Regions from separate parts of the Homo sapiens genome. Here all the other regions are linked to region 2. Evidence: fine-mapped expression QTL. A gene starts in region 2. Each other region holds a variant in brackets. All regions are shown on one strand. Distances are from middle to middle. Region 1 overlaps CLHC1 (clathrin heavy chain linker domain containing 1). Region 2 holds the start of CLHC1 (clathrin heavy chain linker domain containing 1). Region 3 has its middle 64 kb from the start of CLHC1. Region 4 overlaps CLHC1 (clathrin heavy chain linker domain containing 1).

The links.
Region 1: its variant is fine-mapped to the expression of CLHC1 in nasal epithelium (TOPMed, PIP 0.91).
Region 3: its variant is fine-mapped to the expression of CLHC1 in whole blood (TOPMed, PIP above 0.99). The same link has a PIP of 0.9 or more in cerebellum.
Region 4: its variant is fine-mapped to the expression of CLHC1 in whole blood (INTERVAL, PIP above 0.99).

What each region holds. Positions count from the first base shown.
Region 1 is chr2:55,178,069-55,183,220 of GRCh38, forward strand. CLHC1 (clathrin heavy chain linker domain containing 1) reads right to left here. Exons shown (of 13, transcript NM_152385.4): 10 at 3,502-3,676; 11 at 2,442-2,644. Among named protein-coding and RNA genes, the nearest start is that of CLHC1, 52 kb to the right of the region's middle. The variant A/T (reference allele first, on the strand shown) is at 2,440.
Region 2 is chr2:55,229,721-55,234,862 of GRCh38, forward strand. It overlaps CLHC1 (clathrin heavy chain linker domain containing 1), which reads right to left and starts at 2,573. Exons shown (of 13, transcript NM_152385.4): 1 at 2,503-2,573. RPS27A (ribosomal protein S27a) reads left to right here and starts at 2,968. Exons shown (of 6, transcript NM_002954.6): 1 at 2,968-2,988; 2 at 3,088-3,152; 3 at 3,643-3,697; 4 at 4,399-4,484; 5 at 5,111-5,142. The coding sequence starts at 3,105. RefSeq lists enhancers at 2,618-3,047, 3,068-3,247.
Region 3 is chr2:55,165,979-55,171,130 of GRCh38, forward strand. No RefSeq gene overlaps it. Among named protein-coding and RNA genes, the nearest start is that of CLHC1, 64 kb to the right of the region's middle. The variant C/T (reference allele first, on the strand shown) is at 2,693.
Region 4 is chr2:55,203,775-55,208,926 of GRCh38, forward strand. It overlaps CLHC1 (clathrin heavy chain linker domain containing 1), which reads right to left. Exons shown (of 13, transcript NM_152385.4): 8 at 4,852-4,936; 9 at 2,496-2,602. Among named protein-coding and RNA genes, the nearest start is that of CLHC1, 26 kb to the right of the region's middle. The variant C/CA (reference allele first, on the strand shown) is at 2,120.

The sequences.
Region 1 (5,152 bases), 52 kb before region 2:
CTACTAGGAAACCTGAATTCTAATCATAGCTCCATCAGTCACTTACTCTTTTGGAACTCAGTTTTCACATCTGAAAAGTGTAGTATTAGAGGTCTCCATCTAATACTACAGTTTGTTTGTCTATATCTTGTTGCTCATATTTGGACCAAATTCTGGTGAGTATAATGTCTTTCTTTCTGTGCCTTGCACAGAAAAAGCAACTCAGTAATTTTTTTCCTAAAACTATCAAGCATTTAGAAATTCAAAAATGAAAACTTTAAGAAGCCAGTAGCTATTTCAAGTAGCCAGAGGTGGAACCATATGAAGTTTCCTATATTTGGCCACAAAAAGAACAATTCCATATGGGTTAATCTCTATTGGGTTAACCCAATAGTTAACCATTGAGGTAATCTAAAGCTACAATTATGATTTGTATTCTTAAATTTTTTCAAAACAAAGTCTCACTGTGTGGCCCAGGCTGGAGTGCATGGCTCACCATAGGCATAATGATTGTGTACTGTATCCTCAAACTCCTGGGCTCACGCAGTCTCCCGCCTCAGCCTTCCCAGTAGCTGAGATTACAGGCATGCCCCACTCTATACTCTCAAATTTATAAACTTGGTATTAACTTCCTAAATATTTTAAAGTAAAAATATTATTTTGCGGCCACAATAGAGGTAATTTTCAGAATAACTTCTGAGAGCCTTTCAAGGACTACCCGAAACATAATTTGAACTCTGAAAGCCTTGGGTTTTTAAAATGTATTTAATATATAGAGATGGGGTCCCACTATGTTGCTCCAGGCTACTCTTGAACTCCTCGTCTCCCTTTTTCTTACTACATTTCAAAATCCATTTTATTTTTTAAAAAATTATTATTATTATTATTATTATTATTATTGGATAAGGTCTCACTCTGATGCCCAGGCAGGAATGCAGTGCCACAATCACAGCTCACTGCAGCCTAGAACTCCTGGGCTCAAGCGATCTTCCCATCTCAGCCTCCTGAGTGGCTGGGACTACAGACCCATCCCTAAAATTTTTAAATTCTAAGAGTAATTAAAATCTATATCCCATGTCTAAACATTAACTAATATAATTCTTACATATGGAAAAATAATAGTTAACAACACAGAAACTGAAACTGTATACTTAGGTAATGGAATATTAATTAATACCTACTATGCCAGATTCTGTCCTGTCACTACATAACCAAATCACTTAGCTCTAGCTGTGCCTCAGCCTCTCTGTGGAAACATACTATTTTTGCATCTATAAAATGGGACAATAACAAAACCTACCTCATAGAGTCAACATAAGGATTAAGTGAGATAATCCATGAAAAAAAGCCTAGCTATTATTACAATAATAGTATAGGGCATGCTGTTATTAATGAAGAAATTTGTAACTTAAAAAAACAACAACATAGATTCTAAGAAAAAGTCAATTAATTGCTTGAAAATGACCAGATTCAACAACTACTAAAACTCCTTTTTCCTGGAATAATGTGACCTAAAAATGGCCATGTTTGGTTCCATTTTGCATCTTCTTAGAACTGGGATACATAGCCTGCAAATCAGGACAGGCACTGGCCTGGGGGATGGGGAGATGTCAGCAATGCCTGTACTTACAGTTATTGCCAAACTAGATCCAGAATAAGAGCTCTGCTCTTCCAACTAGGGTCACCCTAAGGTCCACAGTTCTCTCAGATTACCGTTCAATTGTAATCTCAGATTACTGTTCAATTGTGTTTTAAAATTTTGAAATAAATTAGAAATTCTTCATTTCTGATGCTTATATTACAGTTCAAAACATTATATATCACAGGCTGGGTGCGGTGGCTCACATCTGCAATCCCAGCACTTTGAGAGGCTGAGGCGGGCAGATCACAAGATCAGGAGATCAAGACCATCCTGGCTAACACGGTGAAACCCTGTCTCTACCAAAAATACAAAAAGTTAGCCGGGCGTAGTGGCGGGCACCTGTAGTCCCAGCTACTTGGGAGGCTGAGGCAGGAGAATGGTGTGAACCCAGGAGGCAGAGCTTGCAGTGAGCCAAGATCGCAGCACTGCACTCCAGCCTGGCAACAGAGTGAGACTCCATCTCAAAAAAAAATATATATATATATATCTCACAAATAAGTTATTTTTAAAAATCATATATGTAGTATGTTCTAGTATATCTGCTAAATCTATCTTTAAAACTGTATATTTCCAGGACTATCTGGCTTATTAAATGTTTGTATTTTGAGGAAATACATAATATTTTTGAATATCCAGCATGAAAGCCAATCAGCTCCAGCTTACTATGTTCATGAAAAATTACACAAGAAATCTCCTACTTATTGGTATATATAAAATTGATTTTATAACGTAAGTTTAAAGTAGTGCTTGCTATTATGGGTAATCTTACAATTAAAGCCCAGAATTCAAATGTATACAAATGGCAGACTTTTTAACTT[A/T]CCGGTAGTAAAGTCCTTCAACTGCTGTATGTACTCCATGACCCTATGAGTCTGACCCTGTTTACACAAGCAAAGAATAGCTTTCTTGTGCAGGCCACATTCACTGTAGACAATCTGAGCTAAAGCCAGGCACTTGGCCTTGTTATAAGTATCCTGCTCCCCATAATCACAAATCACATCCCCAGCCTCCTCAGAAAATGTCAGTCTAGAACAAGCAGATCAATAAGACATATGTTAGAAAATTCCTGATGAGTGGCTGAGACTGAAATATTTGAAAATTCAGCACAGTAGGACTGGATTTTCTACTACCTGTAAGAATTCCAAGTTACAATTTAATAGGCAATTGATTATGTAATTGAAATGATTACTTGTCAATTTCTATCACCCCGATAATAGTCAATATGAAAATAAAGTTATTTGGAATGTAGTGGTGTATTTGCTAAGAAAATTAGATTTCTACAGGAAACTAAATGCATATATATATATATTTTTAGATTGAGTCTCGCTCTGTCACCCAGGCTGGAGTGCAGTGGCGCGATCTCGTCTCACTGAAACCTCTGCCTCCCTGGTTCACACGATTCTCCTGCCTCAGCTTCCTGAGTAGCAGGGACTACAGCCGTGCGCCACCATGCCTGGCTAATTTTTGTATTTTTAGTAGAGATGGGGTTTCACCATGTTGGCTAGGCTGGTCTTGAACTCCTGACCTCAAGTCATCTGCCCACCTCGGACTCCCAAAATGCTGGGATTACAGGTGTGAGCTGCTGCACCTGGCCACCACGTCTGGCTAATTTTTGTATTTTCAGTAGAGACAGGGTTTCACCATGTTGGCCAAGATGGTCTTGAATTCCTGACCTCAAGCGATCCTCCCACCTCTACCTCCCAAAGTGTTGGGATTAGAGGCATGAGCCACCACACCCGACCACTAAACACTTTCTGATTAATTGCAATAGGGACCTGAAGTAAATGTTCAAGTAACATATTGATAAAGCTATTAATATTTTTAGAACAAACAACTTTATTAACGAAATGTCAAAATTAAGTTAAAAGCTTAACTTTGCTTACCTTTCCTGTGTAACCCAATTGGTAACTAAATCTAACCGTTTTTCTGATAATCCACATTTGATTCCTTCCAGGGTTAGAGCTGCATCAACAGGACATGGAAAAGCATGACTTGTGATAAAGAGGGCCTCAAAAAATAAGAGTAATGGAAGAGGCTTTCCTCTAATTTTTCCAACAGCTACAGAAAGGAGAAAATTTTCTGAGTCAAATACTTTAAGAAATAGTTTGCTTTTTCTTATCTCATATTACTATTTTTGTGCCTTTGCTTTTCTAAAACTTTAACAATCTAAAATTACACATTTATAATTTTTAACTCATGCTTATAGATTAAACTTTATCTAAATGACTAAATATCACGTGCCATGTGAAGATGGAGGCAGAGATTGGAATGATCTGCTACAAGCCAAGGGAGGCTAAAAATCGCTGACAACCACCAGAAGCTAGGAGAGAGGCATGGAATGGAATCTCCCTTAGAGCCTCCAGAAGGAATGAACCCTTGACACCATGATTTCAGAGCTCTGGCCTCCAGAACTGTGAGCGAATATATTTTTCTTTTAAGTAATAGGGTTCTGCTGTTAATGAGGCCAATTTGCTATGACCGAAGAGAACAAAAGGTGCAGCTGCAGATACACAGAGGATAAAATTCCTAATGCAAACTATCCTGCTTTAATGACCAATCAAATGAGGCAAATATAAAACTGGACATTTAAAGGAATATACTTAGTCTAACATACCCTAACTTTGAAAATAATTCAATGAGGATGACAAATTAGGATCCTGAAATTTACATGTAGATTCAGCCAGTGACCAAAAAAGTATGTCAATCCCAAATCAGCATGACTACAATTCATTTTTTATTAAGCTGTATGTACACTCAATGCTTGAACTTGCAGGGGAGGAAGACTGTCAATTTGAACTCTTAATTAATCCATCAGATTATTTTCCTTTTTGTGAGCAGAAAATAAATTTACCACCATATCTTATTTCCTAGATTTTTCTTTAATTCTCCTCCTCAAAGTCAAGTGAGACAGTTTAGAGAGAACTACTGGATATGGATGTCTTGGAATTTAGAGAACAAAAAGACCAGAGCCTGATATTTGCCTGGAAAGTTTAAAGGTGAAAGGCTAGAGTGAGTAAAGAGAATTAAAGTACGAGCAAATTCTACTTTCACAAGATTGCATGTTCCTTAAGGGTGAAGGAGATTCCATGAAAGGCGGGTAGGCTGGTTGTCTTGAAAAGGCTCTCTCAGAGAGGTCTGCATGCAGACCAGATAACCCCACCTGAGAGAGTCTTTGGGGGTACACACCACCAGAATCATTAGCAGCCAGCTAAAGTAATACCTCCTGAATCAATAAAAGGCACAATGGAAAGTCCCCAGTGAGGGAAGGCCCTAAAAAACAAAGACTAAAGCAGTAAACTAGGAGGCAACATTGGGCATCTACCACACCCAAGAAACATCAAAGCCTAATGACCACTGCACCAGTTGAGTAAGACCTTTCCTGTCCCTTATATAACCCCACTGTAAAGCTGCCTAGTGATTAGAAGAGGAGAGAGTAGCAGAGTAAAGAAGAAGCAAACATGTCTCCTGAGCCTCAATAGGTTCTAGAGCCAAATCAGAGCCTAACCAGGGTAAGGGGAAAAATTTTAGATTAAA
Region 2 (5,142 bases):
ATTCGAAGCCTTTAGAGGCCTGTGTGCAGAAGAGTGGGAGAGCTGACTTAACATTTTAAAGAATTGTTCTTGGCCAGGCATGGTGGCTCATGCCTGTAATCCCAGCACTCTGGGAGGCCAAGGCGGGCAGATCACCTGACGTCGGGAGTTCCAGACCAGCCTGACCAACATGGAAAAACCCTGTCTCTGCTAAAAATACAAAATTAGCTGGGCGTGGTGGCGCATGCCTGTAATCCCAGCTACTGGAGAGGCTGAGGCAGGAGAATCACCTAACCCGGGAAGCAGAGTTTGCGGTGAGCCAAGATTGTGCCATTGCACTCCAGCCTGGGCAACAACAGCGAAACTCCATCTCAAAAAAAAGAAAAAAAAGAATTGTTCTTGTTGCTCTGTGGAAAACAGATTATAGGACGCAAGGGTCAAAGCTGGAAGTGCTGTTACGAAGCTACTGCAATAATCAAGGCAAAAGATGATGGTGGCTTGAATCAGGGTGCTAACAATGGAGGTGGTAGGAAGTGTTCTGCATATATTTTGAAAATAAAGCCAAGATCTGCCAAGGTAGATAAGATGTGGGATATAAAAGAACAGTCAAGGATAATCATAAAGTTTTTGGCCTTAGTGACTGGAGAAATGGGAATTGCCATATATAAACATGGGAAGAGCAATTTCATGAGATTAAGTGTTTGGGGCCTGTCCATTAGAGATGTTGAGTAGATAGCTGGATATGTGAAGATGAAGTTGTGACATATCTGTGACATATCTGGTCTGACAGATAAGTTTATGAGTCATTTGCATATGATGATACTTTAAAAGTTATTAAACAAAAATGAGATAACCAAGAAAATGCAGACAAAGCAGAGGTCCAAGGACTGGGCCTTGGGGATACTCCATGGTTAGAGGTCTTGCAGATCAAGAGGAAGCAGCAAATGAGCCTGGAAAAGAGCCTCCAGGGTGGCAGAAAAACTGAGAGGTGAAGTCTTTGAAAGGTTTTCAAAGAGAGATGGAATGAGCAACTGTGTCAAATACTGCTGACAGATCAAATAAGATGAAATGACCATTGAATTTAGCAACATGGAGGTCATTAGTGACCATTACAAGAGCTATCCGATCAGAATGGTGGGGACAAAAGCCTGACAGGAGTGGGTTCAGACAACGGAAGGGAAAGATTAGAGACAATATGTACAAGCAACTCTAGGAAATTTTGTTGTAGAGACTAGTTGGCGGACTAGGGGATGAAAAATGTTCCAGGAGGCAGGGCGTGGTGGCTCACGCCTGTAATCTCACCACTTTGGGAGGCCAAGGAGGATGGATCATTTGAGGTCAGGAGCTAGAGAACAGCCTGGCCAACATGGTGAAACCCCATCTCTACTAAAAATACAAAAATTAGCCGGGTGTGGTGGTGGGCGCCTGTAATCCCAGCTACTCGGGAGGCTGAGGCAGAAGAATTGCTTGAACCTGGGAGGCGGAGTTTACAGTGAGCCGAGACCGCGCCACTGCACTCCAGCCTGGGCAACAGAGCGAAATTCCGTCTCACGAAAAAAAAAAAAAAAAGTTCCAGGAAGAATAAACGACTGGATTCTTCAGAAATGCCAAAACACGGGAGGGCATAGGTCAGGAAATTAAATTAGCTTCATTTACTAAAATGTAGAGTAATGGGTTTAGCAGATTAGGTTGTAAGGAAGGCAGAGGCTGAATGTCATTCTAAGAAATTTGAATTGTATCCTGAAGGTGAGGTATAAAATAATAACACACATTTACCTTTCAGAATGAATATTTTGGAGGCAATAGTGAAGGTGGGTTAGAAAGGAGGAAAGACTGGAGAGAGATAAGGAGTTAGATTCGGAACCCCTACAAGAGAAAATTAAGGTCTGAATTTGGGGATGGGGTCGCAGAGGGCAGAGGATGAAGAAATAAATACAGAAGACATTAGAAAGGACTCTGGTTTGTGGAGTGGAGAAAGGACAGGGAGAACTTGCTTCTAATTGGCCTCCTTGCCGGAAGAAGCACCCCATACATACTCCAAAAACTTCCTCTCAGATCCAAGACTCCCAATGCCCAAATTTGGAAATTCTACAACTAAATAACCATTCTGCAGGTTTCTTTTCCGTACGGCTTCACTTTAAAATTTGAAAACTCCTGAGATTTTTCAACATATTAAAGCGTGTCACACTAAGGAGTGACACACAAGACCCAGACTCTTCCCTAGGCTGGGAGAGACTCGGCGGTTGAAAGCAGGGAGGCGCTACAGGAGAGAAAGGGCTGAACCCCCGCTTCCGCAGATTTCACCTATTTTTCAGTTTGCCTGGAGCAGGCCACGCAAATTCCCTTCCCTTGAAGGCCCAAGGAGCGTCTGGTAGATTGCTGATTCTCTGCCCATCACCGCTTCTGGAAGTGAGTGAAGGACACCTTTCGTGCCCCGCACCCTTTGCCCCCCGCTTAACATTTGCTCTAGTCACTTCCGGCCCGTTCCCACGCTCCGGAAACCATTATTCCGCTTCATCCTACCTCCAGTCCTCACCTGAGTCCTTTTCTCCAAACACCGACTTCAGTGCTTAGAGATAGTAACTAGGGAATCTGGGAGGTGGAACTGCATCTTGGGACAAGTAGTCCAAGGTAGAAGAAAGCAGTGGAGAACTACAGTTCCCAGAATGCACTTCCATTTCCTACCTCTTCCCCAAGAGGCCCCCCTCGACCTCCTTTTAAAAATTCTCTTAGCCACGTTGATTGTACGGGAAAAGCCTTTTTAAAACATCTTTTACGTTGCTTAAACCTACAGTTTCGAAAGCATTCCGAAGGCTAAAGTGAGAAATAAGCCCAGGCTAGGGAGAGGAGAAACGAAGTTCACGTCCTAGTCTGGCACCGGGTTGGATTGTCGCTGGGACGGCAGTCAGGCATTTGGTGTGGTCGCCTAAGGGGTGGGTCCTTCGGCGGGAGCTCCGGGAAACCCCGTGGGCCTGCGCGGCGTTCTTCCTTTTCGATCCGCCATCTGCGGTGGGTGTCTGCACTTCGGCTGCTCTCGGGTTAGCACCCTATGGTGCCTTCTCTTGTGATCCCTGACCTAACCTGTCTCTTCCTTTTCCTCAACCTCAGGTGGAGCCGCCACCAAAATGCAGATTTTCGTGAAAACCCTTACGGGGAAGACCATCACCCTCGAGGTACGGGCCGGGTGGTCATGAGGAAGCCAAGGTCCGAATAAGGTCCTGAGGTGGATTTTAGGACCGGCGCTGCTTTCCATGTCTTAGACCATGATTCCGAATTTGGGTTCTAAAACTTAAGCTTTGAAATGAGTACCTTTTGCTGAGCAACGACCTAGAGGTGATTTTCGGTGGCCAAAGGCTGGACCTGTCTCCTCTCGAGGGGTTCCAGCTAGTTAGTTAAAACGGAGGAGCTGCGGTGGGGAAGGAGACGCTCTGCCCGCCGGGTGCGAGCACGTGTGGCCCTGCGGCCGCCGCCCGCTCTGGGCTGGGGAGATGAAGGTGCTTTCCGGTAGCCGACTTGGGAGGTTGCCCACTGGGTGGGTAATAGGTCTCTCGAGTAGGTCTCAGCCCTGTCGCTGGTTCGGTTCAGTGGTAATTGTCAAACTAAATGAGTTCTGCTGTAGTTCCTTAATGTGTAACCAACATGCTTTCACTTTAACACTCATAGGTTGAACCCTCGGATACGATAGAAAATGTAAAGGCCAAGATCCAGGATAAGGAAGGCAAGTAGTATTTTGTAGTTAAGAAAACTTAACCTGCGGAGACTTCGGCCTACCTGTAGGTGCTAGACATACCTGCTCTTGGTGATGGGGGAAGGGGTCAGATTGACAAAGCGAAATACTTGTGGAATAACACAATAGACATTGGTGATCGGGGAGCACAGTACCTAGATTGGAATCCTTGAGGTGTATTTCACTTGCGTGAATTTGGACACTTATTTATTTATTTTGTGTGAGATGGAGTCTCCTCTGTCGCCCAGGCTGGAGTGCATTCGCTTGTCCCGGCTTACTGCAGCCTCCGCCTCCCGGGTTCAAGTGATTTTTGTGCTTCAGCCTCCCTATTAGTGGGGATTACAGGCGTGCACCACCATGCCTGGCTAATTTATTGTATTTTTAGTAGAGACTGGGTTTTACCTTGTTGGCCAGGCTGGTTTTGAACTTTTCACATCAAGTGATCTGCCCACCTCGACCTCCCAAAGTATTGGTATTACAGGTGTCAGCCACTGCAGACAACCAAGTATTGTCCCTAATATTAAATGCGGTAAAATGTGACATGTAAAGATTTAGAACCATGCCTAACCTCTAGTAAGGGCTTATTGTCAGCCTTTAGTATCATGTATTTGATTAAGGGGTGTTACCTTATAAGTCTGGAGCACATCACAGGCTTGGTGTGCTGTGACTTAATTTTTGTTTTTTGTCATTAGGAATTCCTCCTGATCAGCAGAGACTGATCTTTGCTGGCAAGCAGCTGGAAGATGGACGTACTTTGTCTGACTACAATATTCAAAAGGTCTGTCTAGGGGAAGAGCAGCCTCTTTTAAAAAAAAAATGTTATTTTGGAAATTTTTTATTTTACTTTTTTTGAGACAGGCTCTGACTCTGTCACCTAGGGTGGAGTGAGTGGCGCAGTCACTGCAACCTCCACCTCTCAGACTCAGGTGGTCCTCCCACCTCAGCCTCCTGTAGTTGGAACTATAGGCACCCGCCACCATGCCCAGGCTGGTCTCAAACTCCTGGGCATAAGTGATCTTCCCACCGTGGCCTCCCAGCGCTGGGATTACAGACGTGAGCCACTCCATGTGGTGTATTCTGGACATTTTGACACACAAAAAGGGAAAATGGCATTCGAATAGCAGTAGATTTTTAGGTAACTCCTATACTGATACTTGAGAAGCACTGCTATAGTTCTCCCATTATGAATTTTGCAAGTTGTATCCCATGGTGTAATGTAATGCATTCTTTAATGTCCCTATAAACTGTCAGTTAAGAATCTGATACTTTATTGGGTTTGGGGGCTGCAAGATTCCCTCAAATGTTATTGTGTGCTGCTACTGCTTTTAATTAGAAAATGCATAATGTTGGGTGTGCCCATTCTTAGTGGAATCATGAAAGCTTGCTTCATTCTTCCATTAACAGGAGTCTACTCTTCATCTTGTGTTGAGACTTCG
Region 3 (5,152 bases), 64 kb before region 2:
GCCCTACCCACAACACTGCTTATGAAGTAAATGTGCAGAGCCCTGCTGAAGGCAGAGAGAAGATTGTCATCTGTTGAGTCTGGTCAGGTAACTCACACCGTGAAGAACATTGCCCAAGTCCTTATTTAGAGAATTAAGTTTGGTGCCACCTTACAGTCAACCACAACATGTGTATTGGGCCATCCAAGCATCAGAGCAGGGGTACTGAAAAGGTGATCCCTTCCCTCACAGAACCTGCCCTTCCTCAACCAATCAGTCAGATATAGGTACAGCCAGTTCTTAAAGACCTTTAAAGAGCACTCCAAACCCACCCTCGGAACTGTCACCCCTTATAAAGTTCATAAACCTTAACTATCAAAAACATCTCCCTGCAATAATTTAAAGTTTTAACTTAAATTAAATTCCTGTGTGAATTTCTTTTTGTTGTCTTAAGCAGAAGTAGAAAACATGTATGAGGTTCTCTGTTCAGTAATCCTTTATGGTTCATCTGTAATATTTCTTCAAGGTTAATGATCCCATTTCCCACTAGCTTTCTGGCAAAAGGTCATGTTTTCAATCCTATCATCTCTGTAGCTTTCTGTAATAAAGCTTGGTTTGAATGTCAGTCAGTTTAATAGCTATGCCAATTTCTCACCTAATAGAGCCAAGTCTTTATCATCCTCTTTGACAAATGGCACAAGTGGATGCAATAACAAGTCACATTCTAAAGCCACTGAGGGCACTTTGGTTCCCACCCTTCCAGGCAAGCATTTCCACAGCCTGGGCTCCTAACTGAAGATACAAAGGGATCAAGGGAAGAAGAAAGGTTAAACCTAGGAACACGGAAGCCAATGTGCCCCCAGAGAACGGAAGAGGCGGTCTGCGAGTTCAGAAGGCAGGCAGCTCATGCTTGAAGGTGATAGCCTTCTGCCTACAAGAGAAATCTGAGCACATCAGTTACTTCTGTCTTACCAAGAATCCCTGAGATACTGAGATTTCTGAGTTGAAAGTGAGATAAGGCCTGTTTTGTTTTGTTTGTTTGTTTCCATGTACATAGCTCAAGATGTTTTCTTGGCCGGGTGCAGTGGCTCACTCCTGTAATCCCAGCACTTTGGGAGGCCGAGGCGGGTGGATCATGAGGTCAGGAGATTGAGACCATCCTGGCCAACATGGTGAAACCCCACCTTTACTAAAAATACAAAAATTAGCAGGGTGCGGTGGCACGTGCCTGTAATTCCAGCTACTCAAGAGGCTGAGGCAGGAGAATCGCTTGAACCAGGGAGTCGGAGGTTGTGTGAGCCCAGATGGCGCCACTGCACTCCAGCCTGGTGACAGAGTGAGACTCCATCTCAAAAAAAAAAAAAAAAAAAAAAAAGATGCTTTCTGGATCTGCAATGATAAGTAGTGATTTATGTTGGAGAAAGAAATAAGGGAGGTCCAGGCCCTTACTTTACTATCTCTGACCCTGTTTACAGAAGATCCACCCAGTAACTATGACATTTAACTGTGGAGTGGTAGAGTTTTTATACTCATGAGGAAAACTCACACTAGTGGCGCCAAACCACTGGGCGTGGCCTAACACAATTTCTGATAGCCAGGGGAGCTGGGGTTGGGGAGGGTGATTACTGGCATCTAGTGTCCTGCATCCACAAGGCCACAGGACAACCTCACATAACAAAGAATTATCCCGTCCAAACTGTCAGTAGTGCTGAGGTTGAGAAACCCTGACTTACAAATAATTCTCTGTCCTCCTAAATGTATTCACCTACTCAGGAATCATCAGGCCTTGTTTCTCCTCCTCTAGACACTCAGCTGACCTGGGAAAATTACAAGCTGCTTGACCAACAAGCTCATTATCTTGTTTTTGATGGAGACAGAGCTGAGGAACAAAGACAACAAATAAAACCCCAACTGTGGGGTGAAAGAAGACTTAACCTTGGCTCATAGGCTCCCTTCAAAAGCTAAGTGGTATGTGGAGATCCGTGAGCTGGCAGTTCTGGTCAGAAAATAACAAAGTCTCAGAATTGCTTCCTAGGCTAGGGTCTCTCCGGAGGCACACACAGACGCCTCTTGCCTTCACCTCTGCACTAATCTCATTGCCCCACTTTGAATCAAGGCTTGAAGACTGTGCAAGCAGAATAACCAGGCACTCTCTTCAGTTAGTTCTGAAACCATCTCAATGATTTTGGGAGAATACACTCCCCACAATCTGGCAACAAGTTGTCTGGCTTGGGTTATTTCTAAGTCTACATTTCTTAGTTTCCTGAAGAATACACTGAGCATGCCAAAAGGTTTCAAAGCTACAGTTACGGCATCAGCAACAACTCTTCAACTAGCCTGTGCTTCAGCCCAAAGCAGCACAAACAGAAAAGTCAGCCAAGCCACGAGGGGCCTGGTCAAGCGTCTAACAGTGTAGGATTGCTGCATAAAGAGCAGGATCCTACTACAATACATCCTTTGAAGTGCCTCGAAAATAAATGCTATGTTTAGAAAACAAAGTCCTCTCTCCAGGCCTGGACTCACCCCACTCACCCCACCCTCATCCCTATTTCACTGAAAAGCTAAATATGAAAAAGTGCTTGGATGTTTACATATTTTCATATAGAGTAAATTTTCCTTAAAGGGCCATCTTCTTAAGAATACAAATCCTCCAAGAATGGTCCTTGAGCTGCTCAAGCTTTCCAACCAGAAAATATGACTATATTGAAAAATA[C/T]GACTAGAAACAATAGGACCAGCCTCACTTCTTCCCCATAAAAACAATTCCAATCACTGAAGGTCTTGCTGGCATCTCTGCCGCCATCTACTGAGTCAAACTGGCACATATTCTAGTAAATCCTAACCAAGAAAGGTCATTGTTCTGTTATGTTTCCATTTTAACTCTTACCATGTTGTATTACAATTGTTTGTATATAACTTTACTTCTAGATTGCAAGTACCCATGAGATACATAGGATGTCTTATTCCTCTCTTAGTAGCTAATCAGGAAATGGTTGTTGGATTAAGTAATTTTGAGTGTTGCACAGGGCTTCTCCAAAAAAGATCATCTCAAGAATTTTCTTTAGGACTCCTCTAAAACCCAGAAACTACCATAATTATATCAAACAGAAGAGAGCAACTAGTTTATTTTTTAAGGCTTTCAGAGTAGCTCCTTCTACAACTTTCTTTATTGACCCAATACCAGCCTTCACAATCTCCACCATCAGCAAATTATTCTGTCTCAAATAAAAATGGTTTATTATTTAGTTCTATGGCTCATGTGGCTTAGAGTTTGTTGTATCCTTAAGGTGAGGGCTTTTGGACACTCAAAGGCAGAACTGTGATTATATGTTTGTTTTTTTCTTCCCAAATTGAATAACCCCATTCCTTCAACTTTTCTTTCTACATCTTCACGATCTATACATGCTCAAAATTAGTAACAGTTTTCTTAATGTGAAGCCTCAAACTAGTTTCGATGCTCTATTTAGCATTTAAGCAAAGATGATTTCAACAAGTGTTTGTGGTGCCTGCTATTATCCCTATCAATGGGACACTTTGCATTAGGCAAACCTAACATTTACCAGGCAGATAAATTAGGAGTTGGTGATTCATCTCACAGAGCATTCCCAGGAAAATTTCTTCAAAATAACCATTTCAGTCCTGTTTCATTTAGAAAACATTCATTTTATAAGCAATTTTTCATGGATTACAAATCACAGAATGAGAGTAGCTGTAATCTTATTGATGTCTAATTTATGTGTCACTTGGGTTTAAGATATGCACCTTTTTCTGGTATCTGCTACTGGTGTTATGAGCTCTTCAAGACCTCTTGTTCCTTAGGGAAAGAGTCAGCATGAAAATCATCTCTTAGAAAATATTATCATGTTCATTTGACACCTGAAAAAGCATACCCAGAGGGTAGAAGAAACTTGGAGACTGTTTATACACACAAATAGCATAAAGGACTTTTTTCCATCTCTAGGGGACCAACCTGGGCAAAGGAATAGAAGGAATAGCCTTGGCAATTATTCTCCCTGTCCCTGCACCCTCAAGAAAACAGGGAGAGTCACATTCTCGGATGCCAAGATTAATACCTATGTTTGGTTTCTTGGCAAGCAGGCTCTCTGCACTGCAATCTGGAAGGCCACTGGAATCTCTCTGCCAATGTTTTTCGCATTCTCATTATTGATCCTAGTAGCAGCACAAACCTGTTTCTGGATGTTGTGTTCAGAAGCTGATCAACATTAAGTACTCACCTCAAGGAGGCTGGCCAAAAACAGCCTGCAGACTTTTCAAGCTGACTTTTCAAACTGTTTGCTCTTTGGGTTGGTCAGGGCCTGCAATCAAAACTCATCATCATTAATTCATAAACGCCTAACTCTTTAAGCAATTTGGCAAAAATCTTTTGACAATTCAGTCCCACTGCTGGGGGCTGCTTCCAAAATGTACATTACCAAAGTGTGTGAGCAGGCTGGACATGGTGGCTCACGCCTGTAATCCCAGCACTTTGGGAGGCCAAGGCGGGCAGATCACCTGAGGTCAGGAGTTTGAGACCAGTCTGGCCAACATGGTGAAACCCCATCTCTACTAAAAATACAAAAATTAGCCAGGCGTGGTGGGGGGCGCCTGTAATCTCAGCTACTTGGGAGGCTGAGGCAGGATAATCACTTGAACCCAGAAGGTGGAGGTTGCAGTGAGCCAAGATCGCACCACTGCCCTCCAGCCTGAGTGACAGAGGAAGACTCCGTCTCAAACAACAACAATAACAACAATATAGTCAAAATGTGTGAGCAGTATGAGGCGAAGGAAGAGTTCCAGGAGAAAATGGATGGGAATGTGTTGTCACACATTCTGATCTGTGTACAACCAAAGTGGTAGAAGGGTGACATGCCCTTCCTGTTAAGCACAAACCCACCTAAAGCTCACTCTATTTATGATAGTATTTTTATTATCTGACCTAATAAAACAAGATAACAGAATTTAACCCATACAACTGTTCCTTGAGTGGAAAAGATGGATCCTTCTCAGTGTGGCCCTAACACATTAATACACATGAAAGCTTAAAGGTAGAGTTTGCACCCAGTGGAGAGCTAAAAATGCTTGGTGGTGATTATTGCTGCAGTTTGATATATGACATGATAATGGAGACCCCCCACAGCCACAGTGGAATTTCCACTAAAGAGCTAACTGGATAGAG
Region 4 (5,152 bases), 26 kb before region 2:
TAAGCACAGGCAATTGAAGAAAAAAATGGACAAATGGGATCACATCAAGGTAAAAAGCTTCTGCACAGAAAGGATACAATCAACGAAGTGAAGAGACAACCCACAGAATGGGAGAAAATATTTGCAAACTACCCACCTAACAAGGAGTTCATAACCAGAATACATAAGGAGCTCAAACAACTCCATAGGAAAAAAATCTAATAATCTGATTAAAAATGGGCAAAAGATGGCCAGGTGAGGTGGTTCACACCTGTAATCCCAACACTTTGGGAGGCCAAGGCAGGTGGATCACCTAAGGTCAGGAGTTAGAGACCAGCCTGACCAACATGATGAAACCCCATCTCTTCTAAAAATACAAAATTAGCTGGGCATGGTGGTGCATGCTTGTAATCCCAGCTACTAGGGAGTTTAAGGTAGGAGAATCACTTGGACCTGGGAGGCGGAGGTTGTGGTGAGCCGAGATCACGCCATTGCATTCCAGCCTGGGCAACAAGAGGGAAACTCTGTCAAAAAAAGAAAAGGCAAAAGATTTGAATAGACATTTCTCAAAAGAAGACATACAAATGGCAACCAGGCATATGAAAATGTGCTCCACATCATTGATCATTAGAGACATACAAATCAAAACTACAATGAGATATCATCTCAGCCCACTTAAAACAGTAGCTTTTATCCAAGAGTCAGGCAATAAGAAATGCTGGCAAGAATGTGGAGAAAAGGGAACCCTTGTACACTGTTGGTGGGAATGTAAATTAGTACAACCACTACGGAAAACACTTTGGAGGTTCCTCAAAAAATGAAAACTTGGGTTACCATATGATCCAGCAATCCTATGATTATACCATATGATCAACAATCCTATGATTAATGCAGTGCTATTCACAATAGCCAAGATTTGGAAGCAACCTAAGTGTCCATCAACAGACAAATGGAAAGAAAATGTGGTACGTATAGGCAATGGAGTACTATTCAGTCATAAAAAAGAATGAGATCCTATCATTTACAACAACATGGATGGAACCGGAGGTCATTATGTTAGGTGAAATAAGCCAGGCACTGAAGGACAAACTTCACATGTTCTCACTTGTTGGTGGAGTTAAAAATAAAAACAATTGAACTCATGAACACAGTAGAAGGATGGTTACCAGAGGCTATGAAGGGTAGTAGGGGAGTTGGGTGGGGGAGTTGGGCTGTTTAATGGGTTAAAAAAAATAGTTAAATTGTTAAAATGGCCATACTGCCCAAAGCAGGGAAATCTACAAAGCAGGGAACTACAAAATCACAATGAGATACCATCTTACACCAATCAGAATGGCTATTAATAAAAAGTCAAAAGGCAACAGATGTTGGAGAGGATGTGGAGAAAAGGGAACGCTTTTACATTTTTGGTGGGAATGTAAATTAGTACAATCTCTATGGAATACAGTATGGAAATTTCTCAAAGAGCTAAAAATAGAACTACCATTCAATCCAGCAATCCCGCTACTGGGTATCTACCCAAAGGAAAATAAACTATTATATGAAAAAGACACCTGCATTCATTATGTTTATCACAGCACTATTCACAATAGCAAAGTCAGAGAATCAACCTAAGTGTCCATCAAGGGATGATTGGATAAAGAAAATACACACACACACACACACACACGCACACACACACACACACCACAGAATACTACTCAGCCATAAAATAAAACTGAACGCCATTATCCTAAGTAAAATAAATTAGGGCGAGAGAACTAGGAAGTAGCAGGAAGAGAGGGATACTGAGGGGCATGAGGGAACTTTTGAGTGATAATCTCATGGGTGTATGCATATGTCAAAACTTACCAAATTGGGCTGGGCACGATGGTTCACACCTGTAATTCCAGTACTTTGGGAGGCCAAAGCAGGTGGATTGCCTGAGGTTAGGAGTTTGAAACCAGTCTGGCCAACATGGGAAACCCTGTCTCAACTAAAAATACAAAAAATTTAGATGGGTGTGGTGGCACACACCTGTAATCCCAGCTACTCGGGAGGCTGAAACGGGAGAATCGTTTGAACCTGGGAGGCAGAGGTGGCAGTGAGCCAAGACTGTGCACTGCACTCCAGCCTGGACAACAAGAATGAAACTCTGTCT[C/CA]AAAAAAAAAAAAACTTACCAAATTGTGTACTTTAATATGTACAATTTGTTGTATTATGTCAATTTACCACAAGGAAGCTGTGTTTTAAAAGGATGTGGAGCAAATTTGACAAAGTATTAACATTTATTAAATCTTGATAGTGAGTACATGGGTGTTAATGTTTCTCCATACTTTTCTGTATACTTAAAATCGTTCATAATGTAATTTAGAAAATCTAATCAAATCCCTAATGTTACTGCTAAGCAAACTGAGTAAATGGTAGAGATAGGGCTGGGGCCTAGATCTTTAGTCTCCCAGTTTAATGCTTTTTCTATTTTATGAGAGAAAAAGTAGTAAATTTTCATACATATATAAGGTTCAGAGAGAAATGCTTACCCTTAAATGTATTCATTGTACCAATGTTTCGAAGAATTCTTCTAGGACTGTTTGCTGCATAACAAGCTGCCTTTTCATATTCACCAAGTGAGATTAACTCATTAAACCTATAGCCATCACATTTTAAAATGCATTATAATGACACAAAGAAAAAGAGAAAAAACTGATTAGAAATGTTTAATACAGACTAAATATAGCGGCATAACGATATGGAAAAACAAAAAGGAATTCTAATAAACTATAACTAGAATCATTCACACTGTAAGATGTTCCTTGAAATCCTTCTCTAGTACTCTGTTGGGTTTTTTTTAAGTCTCAGAATAAAACTCCCACCTGCTAGCTGACTTTGAACATGATCCTAAACTTTATTCCTATAGCACTTACAGCAAGCCATAGAGGATGGAAGAAAGAACTTGAATTTATTATGAACTCAGATTTTTTTCCCTGCATATCATCTCCACATGAAAAAGTACTGGCATCAGAGGAAAGAAGGGCAATCTGCTTAGAAACATCGCCTAAAGGAAATATTAATTGAAGATAGAACCTACCAAATTGGGCCGGGCATGGTGGTTCATGCCTGTAATCCCAGCACTTTGGGAGACCGAGGATGGGGGATCACGAGGTCAGGAGATCGAGACCATCCTGGCTAAGATGGTGAAACCCTGTCTCTACTAAAAATACAAAAAAAAAAAAAAATTAGCCAGGCGTGGTGGCATGTGCCTGTAGTCCCAGCTGCTCAGGAGGCTGAAGCAGGAGAATCACTTGAACCCGGGAGGCAGAGGTTGCAGTGAGCCAAGATTGTGCCACTGCACTCCAGCCTGGGCGACAGAGTGAGACTCCGTCTGAAAAAAAAAAAAATGAAGCTGCCAAACTGGAGATCAAGAGGTGTCCTTGGTATTCAGAAGCCTATGTTGTTCTGCCAGGCAACAGGTTCCCAATCGAAGATTAGCACAAGAAGGAAAGATAATAGTTAAGATAACTTAAGCCTCTACTCCTCTTCCTATGGCAAAAGGTCTTCAAATCAGTCCTTACCTCACAATTAATAAAACTATGATAAACAGAAGTTACACAGTGTTGCAAATGAATGTGGAGCCCCAGGCGGAAAACCCACTAAAGTAATATTAAGCAAAATACATAAAACTTTCAATCTCAACAAGGGTTTTTCTCTCATATCAAACTGTCAGACTTACAGAAGCATTACAGTGTAAGGAAATAACATGAGCTTTTGTGCTCTGCCCAAAATTATATTTACCCCCTTCTTTTTACCATACCAACAATCCAATTAACAGTTGAAAACTGTTTAACATATAAAGACCAGGAATATTACATATGTTCATTACAGATAAGCGTCATAGCCTATGAATTAACCTCTTAAAGAATATAGTCTTACTATGTATTAAAAATGTTTAAAAATGCTCCTGCATGTTAAACACCAGGGGAGCAACTGTGAGGGGAAAAAAGGAGGGAAAAGGAATTGAAGATAGCAGGAATGATACACAGTAGGATGTCAACTGTAACAAACTTCTACAAAAAGAGCTGAAGTAAATACGGCAAAATGTTAATTTCTTGCTAAGTTGGTACACAGAATAACATTTTGTTAATGTTATTGTCTGTATTTTTATGTATACTTGAAATATTTGATGAAAGTAATGTTTGATAAAAAGTAAACAAAGTAAAAAAGAATATAGTCTTAAATCTCTTTAATCTTATATACTATGTATAATAACTTAAGTATTAGGGAGAAATATGCCTCCTTAATAAGTCAGGGGATAGAAGTAATGAGAAAGAAAGGACTGAATTGGCTAGAATAATCTGAATCAGGAAGACATTCTCAAAAACATTTTGTAACATCAGGTTGATAGCTAGGAAATGTAAGAAAAATACAGGCTGGGTTTCCCTTATCCTAAATGCGTGGGACCAGAAGTGTTTTGGATTTCAGATTTTTTCATATTTTGGAATATATGCATGTACATAATGAGATATCTTGGGGATGGGATCCAAGTCTAAACACAAAATTTATATTTCATATATACCATATACACATAGCCTGAAGGCAATTTTATATAATATTTCTAATAATTTTGTGCATGAAACAAAATTTGTGTACATATTGATCTATCACAAAACAGAGGTATCACTATCTCATGTCAGTGCTCAAAATTTTTCGGATTTTGGAGCATTTCAGATTTCAAATTTTTGGATTAGGAATGCTTAACCTGTATAAATAAAACATATCAACATTATAATCCTCTTATCTCCTCTGAAAAATCTCCTAGATTCCCAATCTGGTATGTTATTCACAAAGAATCTATGAAAAAATATAATTCTGAAAAATTAAAGCTTTTAAAATATTTGCCTTTCAATGTAGTGAAGCATAATTTCAGCTTCTTTTGCCCTGCGTGGATCATCTTCCATTAGTTCTTCAACAATGCCTTGGTCACCTGTAAATATTGAAAGTACTACTGGAAGATATTTAAGGTTACTTACCAATAGAAAACAATAAACATACATGTGTTTAATACCAACAGCTTATTGCTATGGCTCCTAACAGCAGCAACCTCTTCCTAAACTTAGTGGCCTCCCCGTCCCTTTCCTCTTTTTTTTTTTTTTTTTTTTTTTGAGACGGAGTCTGGCTCTGTCACCCAGGCTGGAGTGCA